Regions from separate parts of the Homo sapiens genome. Here region 2 is linked to region 1. The links come from fine-mapping of genetic effects on gene expression. A gene starts in region 1. The other region holds a variant in brackets. All regions are shown on one strand. Distances are between the middles of the regions.

Region 1 (15,064 bases):
GCAAAAGGGACTTGCCTTGTCTCAGATGAGACTTTGGACTTGGACTTTTGGGTTAATACTGGAATGAGTTAAGATTTTGGAGGCCTGTTGGGAAGGCATGATTGTGTTTTGAACTGTGAGGACATGAGATTTGAAAGGGGCCAGGGAATCTGGGCGTGGTGGCTCATGCCTGTAATCCCAGCACCTTGGGAAGATGAGGTGGGTGGATCATGAGGTCAGGCGTTTGAGACCAGCCTGGCCAATAGAGTGAAACCCCGTCTCTACTAAAAAATGCAAAAATTAGCCAGGCGCGGTGGCTCACGCCTGTAATCCCAGCACTTTGGGAGGCGGAGGCCGGTGGATAACCTGAGGTCAGGAGTTTGAGACCAGCCTGGCCAACATGGCAAAACCCCATCTCTACTAAAAATACAAAAATTAGCCAGGCCTGGTGGCAGGTGCCTGTAATCCCAGCTACTTGGGACGTTGAGGCAGAAGAATTGCTTGACCCTGGGAGGCGGAGGTCGCAGTGAGCCAAGATCGCGCCACTGCACTCCAGCCTGAGCGACAGAGCAAGACCCCATCTCAAAAAAAAAAAAAAAAAAAAAATTAGCCAGGTTTGGTGGCACACATTTGTAGTCTCAGCTACTCAGGAGTGTGAGGGAGGAGAATCGCTTGAAGTGTTGGAGGTTGTAGTAAGCCAAGATCGCGCCACTGCACTCCAGCCTGGGTGACAGAGTGTGAGACTCCATCTCAAAAAAAAAAAAAAAGAAAGAAAGAAAGAAAGGGGCCAGGGGCAGAATGATACAGTTTGGCTATTCATAATCTCATCTCGAATCTGGTGAGAGGTGATTGGATTATGGGGGTGGTTTCCCCCATGCTGTTCTCATGATACTGGTTTTATAAGGGGCTTTTTCCCCTTCACTGTCTCTCTCCTGCCATCCTGTGAAGAAGGTGCTTGGCTTCTCCTTTGCTTTCCACCATGATTATAAGTTTCCTGAGGCCTCCCCAGCCATGCAGAACTGAGAGTCAATTAAACTTCCTTCCTTTATAAATTACCCAGTCTCGAGTATTTCTTTTGCTTTTTGTTTTTTTTTGAGTTGGAGCCTGACTCTGTCTCCCAGGCTGAAGCTCAGTGGCACGATCTCGGTTCACTGCAACCTCTGTTTCCCAGGTTCAAGTGATTCTCCTGCCTCAGCCTCCGGAGTAGCTGGGATTACAAGCATATACCACCACGCCTGGCTAATTTTTGTATTTTTAGTAGAGATGGGATTTCATCATGTTGGCCAGGCTGGTCTCGAACTCCTGATCTCATATGATCCTCTCTCCTCGACCTCCCAAAGTGCTGGGATTACAGGCGTTAGCCACCAAGCCCGGCCTTGGGTACTTCTTTATAGCAGTGTGAGAACGCACTAATACAGACCCCATTCCAGGAGATGACAAATAGCAAAAGGCAAAATGATACTCCCTTCTTGACTTTTTTTTCCTCTCCCACTTTTATGTCTTTACGTTTCCTCCTACCATCAACTGCCTTTCCTAACATTGTGGTGACTGATTAAAGAAGAAAAAAAGGACGAGATGAAACTACACTTTACAGTACTTTTTCCCCCCACCACTCCAATCCCGAATTGTGAAATTCATTCTTTTCCTGATCCTCTAATTTGTGCAGTAATGCCGCGAGGTAAGGCTGAACCTTTCTAGAGAGCAAGGGCTATCCAATACCAGGAACCTCAGAGTCCTTCCTCAAGCCATTATCTCAGAGCTATCTGATCACTGTGGTCACCATACAGGCAGTCTATTAATGTCAACTACAGCAACACAGTAAGGGTGAGGGGCGGAAAGTGATCTCTGTTTAATTTCGAGGAAGGGTCCAGAGAATTACCATCCAGCTACCCTTCCTCCACTGGTCCCTCGATGTTCTCCCGGCACCTCCCGTCCTCTCTCCGGGCCCATCTGCCGAGTAAGGGCCAGAGAGCCCCCTCCTCCGCTTAAGCCCGACCCCACCAACTTTTCAACCAATACGATACACTCTTTCTTCTCAGGACATAGTCTCAGACTTCATCCCGGCCAGCTCCCTCCGTCCCACTCCTGGAGACTCACCAAGCGGGCGAGGCCACTCCTCTCCGGCGGCAACTCGGACACCCCAACACCGGACCTGGCGCTGCACCCTAGTCGCGCCTGCGCGCGCCGAGCCCGCGCGCCTGCTCACTTCCCGTTCGCCGCGGACACAGACACACCCCTGCAGCTGGAGCCAATCACGGTGCTGGGGGTTTAAATGTCCCTGCCACGCAGACGGAGAGTCTGGGAATTCACTAGTTAACCGGATAGATTTCAGTCCTGCCCGAAGCTGGGAGGTGTTCATGCAATAAACATTTACTGAGGGCAAACCGTATGCCAGGCACTGTGCTGGATGAACGCTGAAGAAAAGAAAGCGAATACAGTGCTTTCCCTGCTCTTCATCGCCTTTCAATATGTCTAGACTAAGATATAGATATGTAAACAAATTATAGTGGATAGAATACAGTGCATAGCACATAGAAAATTTGAGGCGCCTTTGGCTGATAATGAACAAAGCGTTTTATTCTTAGGGGTGTCTGGAAGGGTTCCCGGAGGAAGTGACTTGAGTCATGAAGGATAAGTAGGAGTTCCCCCGGAAATCCGGCAGAGAAAGAGCTAGAGTTTTCCAGGCTCTGGGGAACAGCTTATGTCGAGAACAGCATAACGCCTTCTGGAAATTTCTAGTAGTTCATCCTTGTTAGAGGCTTAGTGCTAATCGTACATCCCCGAGTGTAGAGGAAAGAAAGCTTTAGAAGGCCAACAATCGCTAGATCTTGGAAGGCCTTGGAATTTTAGACCACTTTGTACTAGGGGCACTGAAAGCTATTGAAGAGTTTTAAGCAGATGGAGGATTATTGTAAACTATTTGCTGCAGGAACCCCTCCATGCACCTCTAAGAATAAAATAAACTGCTGGAAATCAAGAAAAGAAAGTGCTTCACCAGGCACAGTGGCTCACGCCTGTAATCAATCCCAGCACTTTGGGAGGCTGAAGCGGGCAGATCACGAGGTCAGGAGTTCCAGACCAGCCTGGCCAACATAGAGAAACCCCATCTCTACTAAAAATACAAAAAATTAGCCGGGCATGGTGGCAGGCGCCTGTAATCCCAGCTAGTCGGGAGGCTGAGGCAGGAGAATCGCTTGAACCTGGGAGGCGGAGGTTGCAGTGGGCCAAGATCATGCCATTGCACTCCAGGCTGGGCAACGAGAGTGAAATTCCGTCCCCCCTACAAAAAAAAAAAAAAAAGAAAGAAAAAATAGCTGGGTGTGGTGGCGGGTGTCTGTAATCCCAGCTACATTACTATCATAATGTCTATCACTGGCGACAGTGCCAGACTCCATCTCAAAAAAAAAAAAAAAAAGTGCTTCAAGGAGTAAGTAGTCTATTCCTAAGGGATCAAGGAAGATGAAGCCTGAGAAATGTTTTTTTTAATTTCATAACACAGAGGTCACTGATTATCTCAGTGAAAGCTGTTTGTTGGAATGCTGGGGTTGAAAAAAACAACTTAGTAGTTTGGAGGTGGGGGAGATGTAGAGATGGGGACAAGTTGTAGAATGCTTTTGGAAAGTTTGGCCTTGACAGGGAGGAAGGAGGGAGAATGATGAAGGATCAAGATTTTTTGTTTTTGTTTTTTTGATTTTTGTTAGAATTAAGACAGGAGAAACTTGAGCATGGTAGGGAAGATTCAACTGAGAAAAAAATGGTTGAATAAAGGAAGAGAAGGGATAGTCAGTAGGCAAAGATCTTGAAAGGGTAAGAATAGAGGCAGTTTAGAGGCAGTTCGAAACACTGGTAAGAATAATGGTTTTGGAAGAGGGCAGGGAGGGAGAAAGAGAGAGAGAGGAGATATTTCCCCAATTATGAGAGGAAGTATGTTTCTGTATGTTTAGTAACAGGAAGTTAAAGTTCTCATTTGCTGACTTGTTTTCTCTGTGAAGTTGAAGATGGGGTCATCTTCTGATAGAAAAGGAGGTGGTATTGGGAGTTTAAAGGAAAGCTGAGAAGATTTGGAATATTGTAGAAAGTAATACAACAAGTTGACAGAAGAATGTTGTAGGACTGGTAAGCAATATTGAGGGCCTTTTTAATATGGGCAAAAATGAACTCACCATTTTCTGCCCTCCTGTGTAAATTTCTCAAGCAGCAGTCACTTGTTGAGGGCAGAGGTGGAGAAAATGTATGGTTGAGTTCATTAGTTCATTTAGGGTTGTGATGGTCATTGATATAATTCCGTGGTTCTCAACCAGGGACGATTTTGTCCTCCGGGGGATATTTGGCAATGTCTGGAGATGCTTTATTGTGATGACAGGGAAACGGGGGTGGGTACTACTAGCATCGTGTCCAACAGTGCTGCTAAACATACATACACACACACGCACACACATATATGTATATATATATAGAGAGAGAGAGAGAGAGAGAGAAGGTCTTGCTCTGTTGCTCAGGCTGGAGTGCAATGGTGTGATGTCAGCTCACTGCAACCTCTACCTTTGCAGCTCAAATCCTCCCACCTCAGCCTCCTGAGTAGCTGGGACTACAGGTGTGCACCACCACTGCCGGCTAATTTCTGCATTTTTTGTAGAGACACGGTTTCACCATGTCACCCAGGCTGGTCTCAAACTCCTGGACTCAAGCGATCTGCCTCCCTTGACCTCCCAAAGTTATAGGATTACATGTGTGAGCCACTGCTCCCAGTCTGCTGCTAAACATCTTATAATGCACAGGATACCCCTGACAAAAAAGTATATGTTCCAAAATGTCAGTAATCCCAAAGTTGAGAAACCATAATCTAGCGTTACCTTGGCACTCACCAATATCTGACTGTGGTCTTCTACAGGCTTTTCCCTGAATGATGGCCCAGAGTTTATAGGGTAAAATAGTTCCTCCATTGCATGCCTTTGAAGGAGAATAGAATGAGCAGCGTACCACAACCCTTGAGTGTTTCAAGGACTTGTGATGTCACAAACACGGAATTGGAAGTTTCCTAAACCTCTAGAACAAATCTGGATTTACATAGAAGAGGTTAATATAGCCGCTTCCTTTCTTTTTTCTCTCTCTTTTTTTTTTTTTTTTTTTTTTTGAGACGCAGTCTCGCTCTGTCGCTAGGCTGGAGTGCAGGGGCGAGGTCTCGGCTCACTGCAACCTCCGACTCCCGGGTTCAAGCGATTCTCCTTCCTCAGCCTTCCGAGTAGCTGGGACTACAGGCACGCACCACCACGCCCAGCTAATTTTTGTGTTTTTAGTAGAGAAGGGGTTTCACCATGTTGGCCAGGATGGTCTCGATCTCTGGACCTCATGATCTGCCCACCTCGTCCTCCCAAAGTGCTGGGATTACAGGCGTGAGCCACTGTGCCCCACCGCTGCTTACTTTTATTTGAGACGTTGAAGGTCTTGTTAAACAGAGATGTTATAATCTCAATAATATAGGAGGGACACTCCACATAATTATCAACCTGAATGTCATTTCATTTATCTGATAGTCTTAGTCACTAAAATTAGGTTTCTGAGGGAATGGGTATGGGCTAAGTTTAATAATAAATATAGGCGGCCGGGCGCGGTGGCTCACACCTGTAATACCAGCACTTAGGGAAGCCGAGGTGGGCGGATCATTTGAAGTCAGGAGTTTGAGACCTGCCTGGCCAATATGGCGAAACCCCATCTCTACTAAAAATACAAAAATTAGTTGGGCGTGGTAGTGCACGTCTGTAATTCCAGCTACTTGGGAGGCTGAGGCAGGATTATCGCTTGAACCCGGAAGGTGGAGGTTGCAGTGAACCAAGAGAGCGGTTCTGCACTACAGCCTGAACGACAGAGCAAGACTCCATCTCAAAATAACTAACTAACTAACTAACTAAATAAATAAATAATAAATGTAGGCTGGGCGCGGTGGCTGACACCTGCAATCCCAGAACTTTGGAAGGCCAAGGCAGGCAGATCACTTGAGCCGAGGAGTTTGAGACCAGCCTGGGCAACATGGTGAAACCCCGTCTCTACTTAAAAAATATTATAAATACCTTAGGCATGAGTAAGAATAAAGTCAGTATTATGGAATGTCTGCTCTGTGATAGGCAGCATTCATAGATAAACACTTGACCTATGTTATTTAATCCTAGCAACACCCTGTGAGATAACATTATCCTAATTTTAACTCAAGAACCTGAGGTTCCAAGAAGAATTGTAATTTACCCAAAGTCACAAATTATTCGTAGCTAGTCCAAGATCTGAAACTCAGGTCTGGCTGTTCTAAAGCTCTTGCACCTTCCATTCAACTTCAGAAAGTTTTACAAGGAAGGAGTGTTTTCAAAATGTAGCCCGAACAGTTGCCACTGACTAAAGGAAATGGCGGGACACCAAGGAAGAGAGTAGGAGCTACAGGGAGGCCGGGAAAGAACAAGGAGAAACAAGGAGAATGAAAAAGGGACCAGGGAGGCTGTTCATAGCGTCCAACGCTGCGTACTGACTCTCCCGCAAGCGGGCCTGCCTTTGTTCTTCCTCCATTCTTTTTGAGAAAAACCTCTTCCTGTGTGTCCGTTGTTCACTCTCTTGTGTTCAAATAAAGCTAGATTATTGAGAACTGCGGACGGCAAAGGAAAAAAAAGCGAGCGTGACGGCTTCGGTGTGCGCCTGCGCGTTGGCGGCGGCTGTGGCGGGGCCCGGCGGGGAGCGGGTCCGGAGCAGGCTCCCGGACCCAAAACTGAAGGGGGCGTCTGAGGCGTCAGGGAGCTCCCTCGCCTGGCTCTCGGCGGCCTGATGGAGTAAGAGGGGTTGGCTGTGAATGTGAGTATCGACGGGCCGGCCTGCGTTGAGCGTATCGGAGCCCAAGGGTCCTGGTCGTCTGCCCCTTAGGGAGGTTGTGGGGCTGCAAGACACCACCGGGTTTCTACTCCTGCAGGCTGCGGCTCAGGGGCAACCTGGTGGTCCACTCTCCCAGAGCCGGCGCGGGTTTATGGGCAGGCGGTGCTGCTGGCTTCGGGGTACGGATTTTCGCGGGGGCGTTCCAGCTCTGCTCCCAGCCCCAGAAGGAAACGTGGCTCCAAAGCCTTGACCTTTAGGGGAAGCCACTGACCTCCTTCGTCCCCAGTTGGGCAGGGAGTCCAAAGACCCTGGTCCTTAAAGCCCGTAGGTCTCAGGCCAGGGACACATTTCAACCTCTCGCGACTGACAACCTCCGTTCTTTTTCCTCCTTTCGTTTCTCTCCTTGTGGGATGCGTCTTGATAATAACAACTAATAACAAATAGTAACAACAGCTTACTGTGTCCGTTTAATATTTAGTCCGAATCTCGGTGTATAATTGTGGAGAGGAAATGCTTTACATCCTCTTCCCCTTTCAATTTGTTGTGTAATCATCTTTGAGAGTAAGATTAAGGCATCTTATTGAGAAGTTTGAGATATCCGTGGCTTTTAGCAACTTGAGACTGTCATCCTAGGTAAGCGAAGTTCTCTTACCTAGCAAATAAGTGCTGTATCCACCATAATGGTTTATATCCAGTTTATTCAAAGCACAAATAACTTCTTTTTTTTTTTTTGAGACAAAGTTTCGCTCTTGTTGCCAGGCTGGGGTGCAGTGGCGCGATCTTAGCTCACTGCAACCTCCGCCTCCTGGATTCAAGCAATTCTCCTGCCTCAGCCTACCCAGTAGCTGGGATTACAGGCACCCACCACCATACCTGGCTAATTTTTTGTATTTTTATTTATTTTTATTATTATTATTTTTTTTAGGACGGAGTTTCGCTCTTTCGCCCAGGCTGGAGTGCAGTGGCGGGATCTTGGCTCACTGCAACCTCCGCCTTCCAGTTTCAAGAGATTCTCCTGCCTCAGCCTCCCGAGTAGCTGGGATTGCAGGCGTGCACCACCACCACGCCCGGCTAATTTTTGTATTTTTAGTAGAGACGAGGTCTCACCATGTTGGCCAGGCTAGTCTCCAACTCCTGACCTTAGGTGATCCACCCACCTTGGCCTCTGAAAGTGCTGGGATTACAGGCTTGAGCCACCACGCCCGGCCCACAGATAACTTTTGAGTGCTTATTAAGAGCTTAGTACTGTTGTAAATAGCATGGGAAATCTTAAAATTTGCTTTAAGCCCCGTTCTCAAGTTTGGTCGTGAATGAAATAATGAAAGACAATTTTCAGATGCAACTAGAATTTATTTAGTATCTACTACACATTTGCCAATACCGCGCCATGCCTAGAGTTAACTCTTGAGTCTAGAAGATAGTAGGAGCCCTTTAATTAGAAATACTAGATGGTTTTCGAGGAGAACTTTAAAATGGCCTGGAAGGGGCCAGGCGCGATGGCTCACGCCTGTAATCCCAGCACTCTGGGAGGCCGAGGCGGGCGGATCACCTGAGGTCAGGAGTTTGAGACCAGGCTGACCGACATGGAGAAACACCGTCTCTACTAGAAATACAAAATTAGCTGGGCATGATGGCACATGCCTGTAATTCCAGCTACTTGGGAGGCTGAGGCAGGAGAATCGCTTGAACCTGGGAGGCGGAGGTTGCAGTGAGCCAGGATTGTGCCATTGTACTCCAAAAACGAAACTCCATCTCAAAAAAAAAAAATTAAAAAATAATAAAAAATGGCCTGGCAGGAGGTAGAGGGTGTGAACGAATCTGATCAGGCTAGTTCAGAACCTATTGTGTGTGTGTGTGTGTGTGTGTGTTGTTTTTTTTTTTTTTTAGAGAGAGCCTTGCTTTGTCGCCCAGGCTGGAGTGCAGTGGCGCAATCCCAGCTCACTGCAACCTCCGCTTCTTGGGTTCAGGTGATTCTCCTGCCTCAGCCTCCCGAGTAGCTGGGATTACAGGTGCCCACCACCATGCCTGGCTAACGTTTTGTATTTTTAATAGAGACGGGGTTTCACCATGTTGGCTGGGCTGGTCTTGAACTCCTGACCTTAGGTGATCCACCCACCTCAGCCTCCCAAATTGCTGGGATTACAGGTGTGAGCCACAGTGCCCGGCCTCAATTGTTTTGATTAAAAGGAAGATATTTAAAAAGGAAAGACTATGAATAGTGATTATTGTACATCTAGATTAGTGCACGTGTAGTCTGAAGGCTGCTCTACAAGAGTTGAGAGGAATGGAAGATGCTAGACGACTTGGTTCTGGGACCAGGAATGGCTCAGTGAGAAGTCTATGTATTGTGTGTTTTGTAATTGGGAGTATCTTAGTGGAGAGTTTAGGATTAATTTCTGTACCCAATGAATAAGAGCACCTGGGCAGACAAGTTACATATGAATGCTCTACTTGGACCTCTAGCATGTGAAATCACTAGTGGAAACTCTACAGTCGAGTGTGTGTGTGTGTGTGCATGTTTGTGCATGTTTTAATCTGAAAGAAACTATCAAGAAGCTCCCAGGTCTTCATCAGTGAAGGATTGGTTAAATAAATGTATGAATTTGCTAGAAAGAATGAGCCAGCTCTATATGTGCTAATATTGAGTGACCTCCCATATAGTGAGAAAGAAAAGGTGCAAAAGAGGGTGTGCATTTTGCAACCACTGTGGTTTTATAAAAATATTATGTATTGCATATACAATTGTTCCTCCATATCCGTCCATGGGTTCTGCATCCATGGATTCTACCAACTTTGGATGGATAATATTTGGGGAAAAAAAATTCACAAATTTCTGAAAAGCAAAACTTGAATTTGCTACGTGCTGAGTACATACTACATTGCATCCACATAAATGAAGTTATGTGTAGGCATTGTATTAGGTCTTACATGTAATCTAGAGATGATTTAAAGTATACGGAAGGTATGTGTAGGTTACATGCATATACTGTGCCATTTCATATAAGGGTCTTTAACATTCTCAGATTTTGGTATTGAGGGGGATCCTGGAACCAATCCCCCATGGATATCGAGGGACAACCATATATGCATAGAATATCCTCTGTGGAGGATAGTCAAAATCATAGAGACAGAAAGTAGAATGGTGGTTGCTAGGGGTTGAGGGAGGGGGAAATGAGTTATTGTTTAATGGATATAAAGTTTCAGTTATGCAAGATGCAAGTAGTTATGGAGACGGATGGTAGTGTTGGTTGTACAACATTATGAATGTATTTAATACCACTAAACTACACTTAAATGGTTAAGATGGTAAATTTTATGTTTTGTATTTTCATGCAAAAAAATTGAAAAATATCTCTGGAAAACAAATAAGAAACTCACAAGAGTGGCTGACTGGAAGTGGCGGTGGCTAGGAAACAGGAGGGGGTAGTAATAGTTTTTCCTAAAAGCTTTTTTTTTTTTTTTTTTTTTTTTGAGACAGGGTCTTGCTCAGTCACCTAGGCTGAAGTACAGTGGCATGATCATGGCTCACTACACCCTCAAACTCCTTGGCCCCAGCAATCCTCTTCCCACCTCAGCCTTCTTAGTAGCTGGGACTACAGGTGCGTGCCACCATGCCCAGCTAATTAATAAATTTTTTGTGTGTGTGAAGAGGAGGTCTCACTGTGTCACCCAGAATGGTGTTGAACTCCTGGCCTCAAGTGATTCTGTTGCCTCAGCCTCCCAAAGTGCTAGGATTATAAGTGTGCTGCCACTGCATCCAGGCCATATTTTCCCTATAAGCTTTTTTATTTTATTTTATTTTATTTTTTTAAAGATGGAGTTTCACTCTTGTTGCCCAGGCTGGAGTGCGATGGCACGATCTCTGCTCACTGCAACCTCTGCCTCCCAGGTTCAAGCGATTCTTCTGCCTCAGCCTCCCGAGTAGCTGGGATTACAGGCACCTGCCACCATGCCTGGCTAATTTTTTGTATTTTTAGTAGAGATGGGGTTTCACTATGTTGGCCAGGCTGGTCTCAAATGCCTGACCTGGTGATCCCCCCACCTCAGCCTCCCAAAGTGCTGGGATTACAGGCGTGAGCCACTGTGCCTGGCCAAAAAAATTAATTTTTTAATTGGCAATAAAATATATGTATTTATTGTGTACAATATGGTGCCTTGACATATATATATATAACAAGTCCTCACTTAACATCAATAGGATCTTGGAAACTGTGACTCTAAGCAAAACAGCATAATAACAAAACTAATTTTGCCACAGGTTAATTGATATAAAAAAGAGTTAAGTTCCTATGGCATATTTCTGGTCACAAGAACATCACCAAACTTCTAAATGAAGACCCCAAACACTTCTAATACTAAACATTGAAATAAATGTGAGCTATACGTAGATGTAAAAAAGAGTAGCTTGGGCATGGTGGCTCATACCTGTAATCCTAGCACTTTGGGAGGCCAAGGTGGAGGACACTTGAAACTGGGAGTTCAAGATCAGCCTGGGCTTCAAAGCGAGACCCTGTCTCTACAAAAAATTTTAAAAATTGACCAAGTATAGTAGCGTATACCTGTAATCCCAGCTACTTGGGAGGCTGAGGTGGAAGGATCACTTGAGCCCAGGAGTTCAAAGCTGCAGTGAGCTATGATCATGCCCCTGCACTCTACCCCAGGTGATAGAACAAACCCCTGTCTCTGGAAGAAAAAAAAAAGAAGGGCTGGGCGCGGTGGCTCACGCCTGTAGTCCCAGCACTTTGGGAGGCTGAGGTGGGCGGATCACGAGGTCAAGGGATCTAGCCATCCTGGTCAACATAGTGAAACTCTATCTCTACTAAAAAATACAAAAGTTAGCTGGGTGTGGTGGTACATGCGCCTGTAGTCCCAGCTACTCGGGAGGCTGAGGCAGGAGAATCGATTGAACCCGGGAGGTGGAGGTTGCAGTGAGCTCAGATCATGCCACCACACTCCAGCCTGGCGACAGAGCGAGACTCCGTCTCAAAAAAAAAAAAAAAAGAAAGAGTAATAAAAACAGGATATTTGCCTAATTTTTGGCAAATCAATGGGTGACCACAGTCCCACTGGTGGTGGGCTAAATCAAGGAATAAATATTTCCAAAGTGAAAATTTTAAGGAGCACTGGCTACTACCATGTGGTTAAAAATCAACAAATATGACAGGTGGGTGCTTTCGTACCACATTGTTTATTGTTGTGCATACGTCACACATTTTTATTTTATAATAATTTTTATTTATCCACTCTTTTATTTTCCAACGTCTTTATTCCAGTTCAGTGTTCAGGTGGTCAGAGCCTATCCTAAGCAGCTAAGGTTACAAGGTAGAAACCAACCCTGGACAGGACGCCATTCCATCCCAGGGTGTACTCACACACACACACCCACACTCACTGAGACTGGGACTGTTTAGACACCCTGTTCACCTATCAGGCACTTACTTCGGGGTGTGGGAGGAAACTGGAGACCTGGAAGAAACCCATGAAGGAATAAGGAGAACATACGAAGTCTTCATGGACAGTGGCCTCAGCTGGAAGTAATTTATTTTTTCTCATTAATGTTGTAACAGCATGATATTGAATGAAACAGCATTTTTTGAGGACCTGCTGTACCTTGTGGAATAGCTAGATGAAACTAATTAACATATGTATTACTTATAAGTTTTTGTGGTGAGAACACATAAACCTTGCATCACTTTCTAATGTCCCAGAAGATGTTCATGTAGGTGAAAAATCTGTTTATAATTATCTGAGCCTCAAACCAAATTTGTTTAACATAAACATACAGTATTTTTTTTGTTGTTGTTGTTTTTCTGAGGTAAGGTCTCACTCTGACCCCCCAGGCTGGAGTGCAGTGGCATGGTCTTGGCTCACTGCAACCTCTGCCTCCTGGGTTCAAGTGATTCTTGTGTCTCAGCCACCTGAGTAGCTGGGATTACAGGCATGCAAGCCCAGCTAATTTTTTTTTTGTAGAAACGGGGTTTTGCCATGTTGGCCAGACTGGTCTTGAACTCCTGGACTCTACCGATCCGCCCGCCTCCGCTTCCCAGGTGCTGGGATTACAGGCGTGAGCTACCGCGCCTGGTCAACACAGAGTATTTTTTGCCTGAAGCATAGTTAATGTGTAAATCAAGGGACTGTGCTTTCTTTAGTTCAGAAAGATTATTGAGTTGGTCACTATTTTGGGAAATTATATTGCAGACAGCAATGCTGTTTGTGTTTGTTTTGAGACAGAGTCTCACTCTGTCACCCAGGCTGGAGTACAGTGGCATGATCTTGGCTCACTGCAACCTCTGCCTCCCAGGTTCAAGCAATTCTCGTGCGTAAGCTTCCTGAGTATGTGGGACTACGGGCACGCATCACCACGCCTGGCTAATTTTTGTGTTTAGTAGAGATGGTATTTCACTATGTTGGCCAGGCTGGTCTTGAACTGCCTCAGCCTCCCAAAGTACTGGGATTACAGGCGTGAGCCGCCATGCCTATCCTATTCATGGTATTTTTTATCAACAATATCACATGCCTGTCTATATTAGTCTGATTTTGTAGTAGTCATATTTATAGTTTTATTCTTCTAATATAGTCATGTCTGAGCATTTATATGTTGATATACATGTTACTTTATAACTCACTTTCCTTTAATTTTTCATTTTTATTATAGTTAGCACATTAATTGATATTTGAAGTTTTACATGTGTAAGTAAGTTACAGTAGCTCTGCATTTTATTTCAGGAAGGATAAGAAGGTTATTACAAAATATTTACAACAAAAGGGGGTACAAAATATCTTTAAAGAAAAAATTGTATGGTGACAATTGGGGAAGCTGGCTGATCAGAACACTGGGGATTGTTATAATAAGCCTTCTATTTTTATGTATGAATGAAAATTTCCACAATGATATGTTTTAGGAAAAAAGTTGGGTCTGATGTGATTGAGAATTGCTGCTCTACAGTGTGCCTCAGAAATAGCCACAATTGGGATAAGTGTTATAAAGAAGAGATAGGGTTTCAGAAGAGCAGTGCACAGTGAGGGGTATGACCTAGTCTGGGAGATGAGGGAGTGCTTTCCTAGGCAACTGACATTTGGACTGAGATTTGAAGGATGAGTAATTAACTAGATGAAAAGGAGTAAGAGCTTTCCAGGGAGAGGGACCAGCATATGAAAAAGCCCTAAGGTGGGAGGAGTGTGGTAGGTGGGAAGAACTGAAAATGTCATTTTGTCTGATCACAGAGATCAACAAGAAAGTAGCTCAAACCTATGTAATACACATTAGCAAGGGTTGTGTCAAGCGGGCCTTGTAAGACCTTTTAAATATTTTGATTTATATCTTACATAATTAGATGCCTTTGAAGGGCTTTTAATAGTGAGGGACAAAGGCATAAAACATAAGCATGCATGAGAATAGTTTTTTCAGTGTATGGTTGAGCAAACCATGTATGTGTATGTTTAGATGGAGGCACCGTAAAATTGAGGTAGGCTGGAATGCCGAGCCACCTCATGAACAGCTGCTATTCAGGAGTCACCCAGGTCCCAGCAGACTTTGTCACTAAACCTAGGGCCTCCTACTCCATCGCATGATGGAGGATATGTCTTCTTTGATCAGTCTGTCCCGCTTGAGCATTGCTTGGAGCCATTCGAAGAGGCTGGTGGCTCTCAAAAGTGCAAACATGAGAGTCCTGTTCTGGTCATAGGCTGAGTAAGCTCCTCCTGGCCAATGCCCCCACAGATAACAACTATTATTACATCTGGATGGAAATACATAAAACCAGTAAAATCTACTGGAGAGTTACAAAAAAACCAGGCAGATTCTAGCGGGGAGTTAACACAAGAATGGGACTACTTGGAGTAATTTCCCATTTTCATGGCTTCTAACTTTAGGGCAGGCCCTGATCTATGTCATGTAGGGTGCTTAAAATTCCAATAGTAAACTTTAGTCTTTGTGGCCTGAAGAACCAGAAGATAAAGCTCAAGCAACTACAGCTGTTGGGAAGTGAGAGGAGAATCCTGGAAAGCAGAGAGAGAGGAGAAGCATCAGACTCTGTGAATAAACTCTGCCCAAACCTTGGCAGACTGCTGAATTATGCATATGTGGAGCAGACTCCAAAGAAGCCCAGCTGAGGATGAAATAACTGAGGATTTTGCCGGGCGCGGTGGCTCACGCCTGTAATCCTAGCACTTTGGGAGGTCGAGGTGGGTGGATCACAAGGTCAGGAGTTCAGGACCAGCCTGGCCAATATGGTGA
Region 2 (8,000 bases), 190 kb after region 1:
GCACAGTCTCTCATGGTTTCCTTTGGCTAAGGGAGGGAGTTCCCTGATCCCTTGTGCTTCCCGGGTGAGGCAATGCCCCACCCTGCTTCGGCTCGCCCTCCATGGGCTGCACCCACTCTCTAACCAGTCCCAATGAGATGAGTCAGGGCACTTCAGTTGGAAATTCAGAAATCACCTGCCTTCTGTGTTGATCTTGCTGGCAGCTGCAGGCCGGAGCTGTTCCTATTCAGCCATCTTGCCAGCCACAGCATACCACATTTTCTTTCTTTCTTTCTTTTTTTTTTTTTGAGATGGAGTTTCACTCTTGTTGCCCAGGCTGGAGTGCAATGGCATCATCTTGGCTCACTGCAACCTCCACCTCCCAGGTTCATGTGATTCTCCTGCTTCAGCCTCCCTAGTAGCTGGGATTACAGGCATGCACTACCACGCCCAGCTAATTTTGTATTTTTAGTACAGACAGGGTTTCTCCATGTTGGTCAGGCAGGTCTTGAACTCCCAACCTCAGGTGATCCACCTGCCTCAGCCCCCTAAAGTGCTGGGATTACAGGCATGAGCCACACACCCAGTCCCATATTTTCTTTATCCAGTCTATCACTGATGGGCACTTGGGTTGGTTTCATGTCTTTGCTATTGTAAATAGTGCTGCAATAAACATACATGTGCATGTGTCTTTATAGTAGAATGATTTATATTCCTTTGGGTATATACCAAGTAATGGGACTGCTGGGCCAAATGGTATTTCTGGTTCTAGACCCTTGAGGACTCACTATACCATCTTCCACAATGGACTAATTTACATTTCCACCAAGAGTGTAAAAGCATTCCTATTTCTCCAAAGCCTCGCCAGCATCTATTGTTTTTTGACTTTTTAATAATCATCATTCTGACTGGTGTGAGATGGTATCTCATTGTGGTTTTGATTTGCATTTCTCTGATGATCAGTGATGTTGAGCTTTTTTTCATGTTTGTTGGCCACATAAATGTCTTCTTTTGAGAAGTGTCTGTTCATATCCTTTGCCTATGTTTTGATGGGGTTGTTTTTTTATTGTAAATTTGCTTAGGTTCCTTGTAAATTCTGGATATTAGCACTTAGGGTAGATTGCAAAAATTTTCACCCATTCTGTAGGTTGCCTGTTTACTCTGATGATCGTTTCTGTTGCTGTGCAGAAGCTCTTTAGTTTAATTAGATCCCATCTGTCAATTTTGGTTTTTATTGCATTTGCTTTTGGCGCTTTCATCACGAAGTCTTTGCCCACGCCTATGTCCTGAATGGTATTGTCTAGGTTTTCTTCTAGGGTTTTTATGGTTTTGGGTTTTACATTTAAGTCTTTAATTCATCTTGAGTTAATTTTTGTATAAGGCATATGGAAGGGATCCAGTTTCAGTTTTCTGCATATGGCTAGCCAGTTCTCTCAGCACCATTTATTGAATAGGAGATCCTTTCCACATTGCTTGTTTTTGTCAGGTTTCTCGAAGATCAGATGGTTGTAGATGTGTGGTGTTATTTGGTTATTTCTGAGGTCTCTGTTCTGTTCCACTGGTCTATATGTCTGTTTTGGTACCAGCACCATGCTGTTTTGGTTACTGTAGCCTTGTAGTATAGCTTGAAGTCAGGTAATGTGATGCCTCCAGATCTGTTCTTTTTGCTTAGGATTGTCTTGGCTATACGGGATCTTCTTTGATTCCATATGAAATTTAAGGTAGTTGTTTCTAATTCTGTGAAGAATGTCAATGGTAGTTTGATGGGAATAGCATTGAATCTATAAATTATTTTGGGCAGTAAGAAAACTTCAGGCCAATATCCCTGATAAACATCAATGTGAAAATCCTCAATAAAATACTGGCAAACCGAATTCAGCAGCACATCAAAAAATTTATCCACCACGATCAAGTCAGCTTCATCTCTGGGGCAAGGCCGGTTCAACATATGCAAATCAATAAACGTAATCCATCACATAAACAGAACCAAAGACAAAAACCACATGATTATCTCAATAGATGCGGGAAAGGCCTTTGATAAAATTCAACATCCTTCATGTTAAAAACTCTCAATAAACTACATATTGATGGAACATATCTCAAAATAATAAGAGCTACTTATGACGAACCCACAGCCAATATCACACTGAATGGGCAAAAGCTAGAAGCATTCCCTTTGAAAACTGGCACAAGACAAGGATGTCCTCTCTCACCACTCCTATTCAACATAGTAATTGGAAGATCTGGCCAAGGCAATCAGGCAAGAGGAAGAAATAAAGAGTATTCAAATAGGAAGAGAGGAAGTCAAATTGTCTCTGTTTGTAGACGACATGATTTTATATTTAGAAAACCCCATCATCTCAGCCCCAAAAAAATCCTTAAACTGATAAGCAACTTCAGCAAAGTCTGAGGATACAAAATCAATGTGCAAAAATCACAAGCATGCCTTTACATCCACACTAGACAATCAGAGAGCCAAATCATGAATGAACTCCCATTCACAATTGCTACAAAGGGAATAAAATACCTAGGAATACAGCTAACAAGGGATGTGAAGGGCCTCTTCAAGGAGAACTACAAACCACGGCTCAAGGAAATAAGCGAGAACACAAATGATAAAACATTCCATCCTCATGGATAGGAAGAATCAATATTGTGAAAAGTGCTCTTTTGAAGATACATGTGATTGGGGATGAAGAGAGAGAAGATTTCTGGAGTGTCCATTCTTCACAATTCAACAAAATAATCTTTTAAAAATAGAAATAAGACCATGCATCTCTGCTACTTAGAACCGTTCCAGAGTTTTCCTTTGCTCTTAGGAGAAACTCAGAAAGGTTAACATGGCTTGGAAGAAGGTAAGCTGCATGATAAATGGGGGACTTATATTTTTCAATGATGTCTCACCAATTCCATGAACAGTGCCTGGGATATAGGAGGTACTTAACAAATAATTGTTAGATAAAATAATTATTACAAATCTTTCCACAGCACTGCCCTGCGTGTCTTTCTAGCCTCGTTACATACCACCCTCCCCTTTGCTTTCCTTTCTCCAGATGAAATAAATATATATTGCATACATATTCCATTTCTTCAAATGGAATATGCTCCATCCTACCTCCACATCTTTGAATATGCAGTTCCCTCTACCTGGAACATTCTTTTCCCAACTTTTTGACTTGTGTATATACAACTTTTTGACTTGTGTAGACATCAGTTTCGGCTTTAACATTATTTCCCTCAGAAGGTCTTTCCTGACCCTCATCTTGGCCAGGTCCCTTGTATTCTCCTACAGCACCATTTTGTAACACTCCTCATGCTTGTAATTACTTACCCAATGTCTGTCTTTCCCAATAGATTCTAATTTCCATGAGAACATGTTTGGGATTTGTTTTATTCAAGGCTGATTCTCCTTGCCTAGCAATAATGCCTGGCAAAAAGTAGGCACTCAGGAAGCATCTGTTTTTATGAATGAATGAATGAATGAATGAATAAATGAATGAATGAATCAACGAGATGACAAGGTGAGCCGAAGAAACAAGTGGTCCTATTTATATGCAGTCGATCATTTAACAAGCACCCTTCTGTAGAAGGAAGAAAGAGAATTCCTTATATGCCCTATCATGATGATGATGGTGAAAAAGATAACAATAAATGGATCAATCTAGATTACCTGAGAGGTGTCCACTGATGTCTCCTCCTCATTTTCTTTAGCAGCTCTGTTTTAACGTAAATAAAGTTGTTTCACTCAATGGCAAGACTGACAGAATTTTGTTCAATGATAAAGATTTTTCATTTCCAACTTTTGAGACCTCAGTTATATCCTTTAATGTATTAAATATAACATCATTATAAAAATAAAAATGAACCCAGGTGCAGTGGTGCCTGCCTGTAATCCCAGCTACTTGGGAGGCTGAGGCTAGAGGGTCACTTGAGCCCAGGAGTTCGATGTCAGCCTGGGTAACATAGTGAGATCTCATCTTTAAACAATAAAAAACAATTTAAAAATGAGTTTATAAAATTGGACAGTAATGATGAACATTAATCTAATAGCTTCATTTCTTAATGTAGAAGTATTTTAATTTTGTTAACTCTTTAAAAAATACTTTTATCATTTTTTATTATAAATGTTAAACATGCTCATAATATTTCAACAAAATCTAAGTAAGCAAGGTAGAACATAGCTCCCTACACTCGGTGTAACTCTCCTCACTCCCAGAACACAGCACTATAATGTACAGTCTTTCAGAATGATTGTGACAATTTATTCTTCCACCCATAGTTGTATTTCAGTGCTCAGTTCCCCACATTCTTAACATTGCTGGACTTTATCAATCTTTCAGTTTTTGCCAATCTAAAATTGTAGAAAAAATAAATGCATTTCAGTTTGTATTTCTAAGAGCATGAATGATGTAGGCTAACTTTTATACATTTAATGGGCAACATAGTGAGACCATATCTTCCAAAAAAAAAAAAAAAGGAAAAAGAAAAAAAATATTTGAGTGAAAAATACATTACAAAAGAATATATACAGCATACTTTTATTACATAAAAGTTTTTTTAGAAAAGACGAATCCAAATAATATGTTGTTTGGGAATTCATACATATGTGGGAATCCAATTAAAAACCCCAAGGAGTCTGGGTGCGGCAGCTCACACCTGTAATATGGGCACTTTGGGAGGCCAATGCGGGTAGATTACCTGAGGTCAGGAGCTCGAGACCAGCCTGGCCAACATGGTGAAACCCTGTCTCTACTAAAAATACAAAAATTAGCTGGACGTGGTGGTGGGCACCTGTAATCACAGCTACTTGGGAGGCTGAGGCAGGAGAATTGCTTGAACCTGCAATTGGGAGGCGGAGGTTGCAGTGAGCTGAGAT[C/T]GCACCACTGCACTCCAGCCTGGGCAACAAGAGTGAAATTCCGTCTTAAAACAATACAAAACTAAACTAAACCAAACCAAATCAAACCCAAGGAAGTGATTAACACAAAATTTAGTAAACTGGTTACCTCTGAAGGTAAGATATACTATGCTAACACCAATCAAAAGAGAGTAAGAGTAGATATATTAATTTCAGACAGAAGAGATTTCAAAGCAAGGAAAATTTGGGGGGATAAAAAGGGATATTACACAATGATAAAGGGATCAATACTCTAAGCAGACATAACAATCTTTTTTTTTTTTTTTTTTGAGACAGAGTTTTGCTCTTGTCGCCCCGCCTGGAGCAATGGTATGATCTCGGCTCACTGAAACCTCCACCTCCCAGGTTCAAGTGATTCTCCCACCTCAACCTCCCAAGTAGATGGAACGACAGGCACATGCCACCATGCCTAGCTAATTTTTTTGTATTTTTAGTAGAGACAGGGTTTCAGCATGTTGGCCAGGCTGGTCTCAAACTCCTGACCTCAGATGATCTGCCTGCCTCAGCCTCCCAAAGTGCTAGTATTATAGCCATGAGCCATTGTGCCCAGCTCAACGTAACAATCTTTAATGCGTGTATGAGTCTAACAGAGCATCAAACTATATAAGGCAAAAACTGATTTGTTGAGCTTTTTAGTCATTGTTAGGATGGAGTAGTGACTTCTAAGCTCCTTACATGCCAGACGGGAAACTGGAAGTCCTTGACTTTTAATTTTGTTCACGCTGTGTGTGTGTGTGTGTGTGTGTGTGTGTGTGTGTGTGTGTGTGTGTGTCTATAATAAAGCTTTTTTTCTTCTTGTGTTGCTTTCTGAGTAGAATCAAAGCTTAAAATGTGTAAGTAATCAAATCCATCAATCTTTTCCTTATGGCTCTTCAGTTTATGTCACACTCTCACAATTACAGAAATATTGTTTTATATTTTCTTCTATTTTTATGTCTTTTTATGTTTAATTTTTATTCATCTGCAATTGATTTTTGTTAATGTTATGAGGTTAAAATCTAACTTAAAATTTTTTCCAGTTAGATCATCTGATTTTCCTAACACAAATATAATTATAAATATAAATGTAAATCATGGAACTATAGCTACCAGTACAACCTCTATGGAAGGCAATTTGGCAATACCTATGAAAACTACAGGCGGGGCGTGGTCGCTCATGCCTGCAATCGCAGCACTTTGGGAGGCTGAGGCGGGCGGATCACGAGTTCAGGAGATCGAGATCATCCTGACTAACACAGTGAAATCCCATCTCTACTAAAAATACAAAAACAAAATTAGCCGGGCATGGTGGTGGGCGCTGTAGTCCCAGCTACTCGGGAGGCTAAGGTGGGAGAATGGCATGAACCCAGGAGGCAGAGCTTGCAGTGAGCCAAGATCATGCCACTGCACTCCAGCCTGGGTGACAGAGCGAGACTCCATCTCAAAAAAAAAAAAAAAAACTACAAATGCACAAACCATCTGATCAACAACTATCCTTTTATGACTCTATACTATAAATATACTTGTATATATGCACAATGACACATATTCAAGGTTATTAGTAAACTAACTAGTTGTAAAACAAGATTAGAAACAACTTTAAATCCCTCAATAGAGAATTTACTCAGTGAATCATGGTAAAGCCATACAACAGAAATTATGTAGCTGCTTTAAAGAAATTAAGAATTATCACATTGTTAACAGAAAAAAGCAAGGTGTAGAATAATGTGTAAAGGTGGCGCCATTTGTGTCAGGAAAGGAAAAGTCAAAGAATATATATAAAATGTGTATACATAAATTGTTTCTGAAAGGATACACAAAAAACTGGAAACACATTACTTTTTTTTTTTTTTTTTTTGAGACAGAGTCTTGCTCTGCTGCCCAGGCTGGAGTGCAATGGTATGATCTCAGCTCACTGCAACCTCCACCTCCTGGGTTCAAGAGATTCTTCTGCCTCAGCCTCTTGAGTAGCTGGGACTACAGGCATGTGCCACTATACCTGGCTAAATTTTTGTATTTTTACTAGAGACAGGGTTTCACCATGTTGGCCAGGCTGGTCTCGAACTCCTGACCTCAGGTGATCCACCTGCCTCGGCCTCCCAAAGTGCTGGGGTTACAGGCATGAGCCACCACACCCGACCAGAACACATTACTTTCAACGATGGAAAGTGGGCAGCTAGAGGACACAGGGGGAAGGAGATTCTTTACTATTATTACATAGAAATGTGTATTAATATATACTCCTTTGTACCATGTGCCTCTTCTACATAAGTAAGTAAAAGGATCAACTTAGATAGGAAAGAAAACAATGTTTAAAAGAAAACAGAACAAAATCATCGGGGTTTACAAAAGAAAAAAAAGCGTTTTTTGTTTGTTTGTTTTGAGACAGAATCTCGCTCTGTTGCCCAGGCTGGAGTGCAGTGCCACAGTCGCAGCTCACTGCAGTCTTGACCTCCTGGGCTCAAGTGATCCTCCTACCTCAGCCTCCCAAGTAACTGGGACTACAGGCATGTGCTATTAAACTCAGCTAATTTTTTTGTATTTTTTTGTAGGACAGGGTTTCACCATGTTGCCCAGGCTGGCTTCAAATTCCTGGGCTCAACTGATTTGCCACCTCGGCAAAAGTGTTATGATTACAGGTGTGAGCCACTGTGCCTGGCTAGAAAAAAGGCTTTACATATAAAGAACATGAGTAGTGGGTACACAGATATTTGTTCTGCTATTATTAGTATTTTTCAGTTAAACAAGTACTTGACTATTCATAAGGCACTAAGAGAGTAGGTGGAGAGATTATGGGGATTTTAAATTTTCTTCTTTTCAATATTTTCTAATCTGCCTATGATGAACAAGTATTAGTTCTGAGATGAGAAAATGAGATATTTTTAGTATCAAAATTTTAAAACAGAAATGAGTTGAAACTCAGAAAAATGACTATGTTGGAATAATGAATGTTGAATGCTTTCTGCAGATCATATAATACGTTTATTATCATGATAAAAATAGAAAGAACTATAGACTAAAAGATTTAAAAACAGTGTTCGTAAGAATGGAATAAGAATCTCCTCCTTACCACCACCTCCTAATTCATGTGAGCACCCCACATAAACAGCTTTGATCAAGCAGATGG

The links. PIP is the estimated chance that this variant, and not a neighbour inherited with it, causes the effect. A credible set is the group of variants that fine-mapping cannot tell apart.
Region 2: its variant is the best candidate, but not a certain one, in a credible set for the expression of ZNF106 in whole blood (INTERVAL, PIP 0.51).

The regions. Positions count from the first base shown.
Region 1 is chr15:42,482,726-42,497,789 of GRCh38, reverse strand. It overlaps ZNF106 (zinc finger protein 106), which reads left to right and starts at 6,649. Exons shown (of 22, transcript NM_001366845.3): 1 at 6,649-6,810. SNAP23 (synaptosome associated protein 23) reads right to left here and starts at 2,156. Exons shown (of 8, transcript NM_003825.4): 1 at 2,077-2,156. RefSeq lists enhancers at 1,396-1,939, 1,940-2,483, 6,477-6,586, 6,887-6,936, 6,987-7,176.
Region 2 is chr15:42,293,306-42,301,305 of GRCh38, reverse strand. GANC (glucosidase alpha, neutral C) reads right to left here. Exons shown (of 24, transcript NM_198141.3): 6 at 3,650-3,695. Among named protein-coding and RNA genes, the nearest start is that of TMEM87A, 24 kb to the right of the region's middle. The variant C/T (reference allele first, on the strand shown) is at 4,856.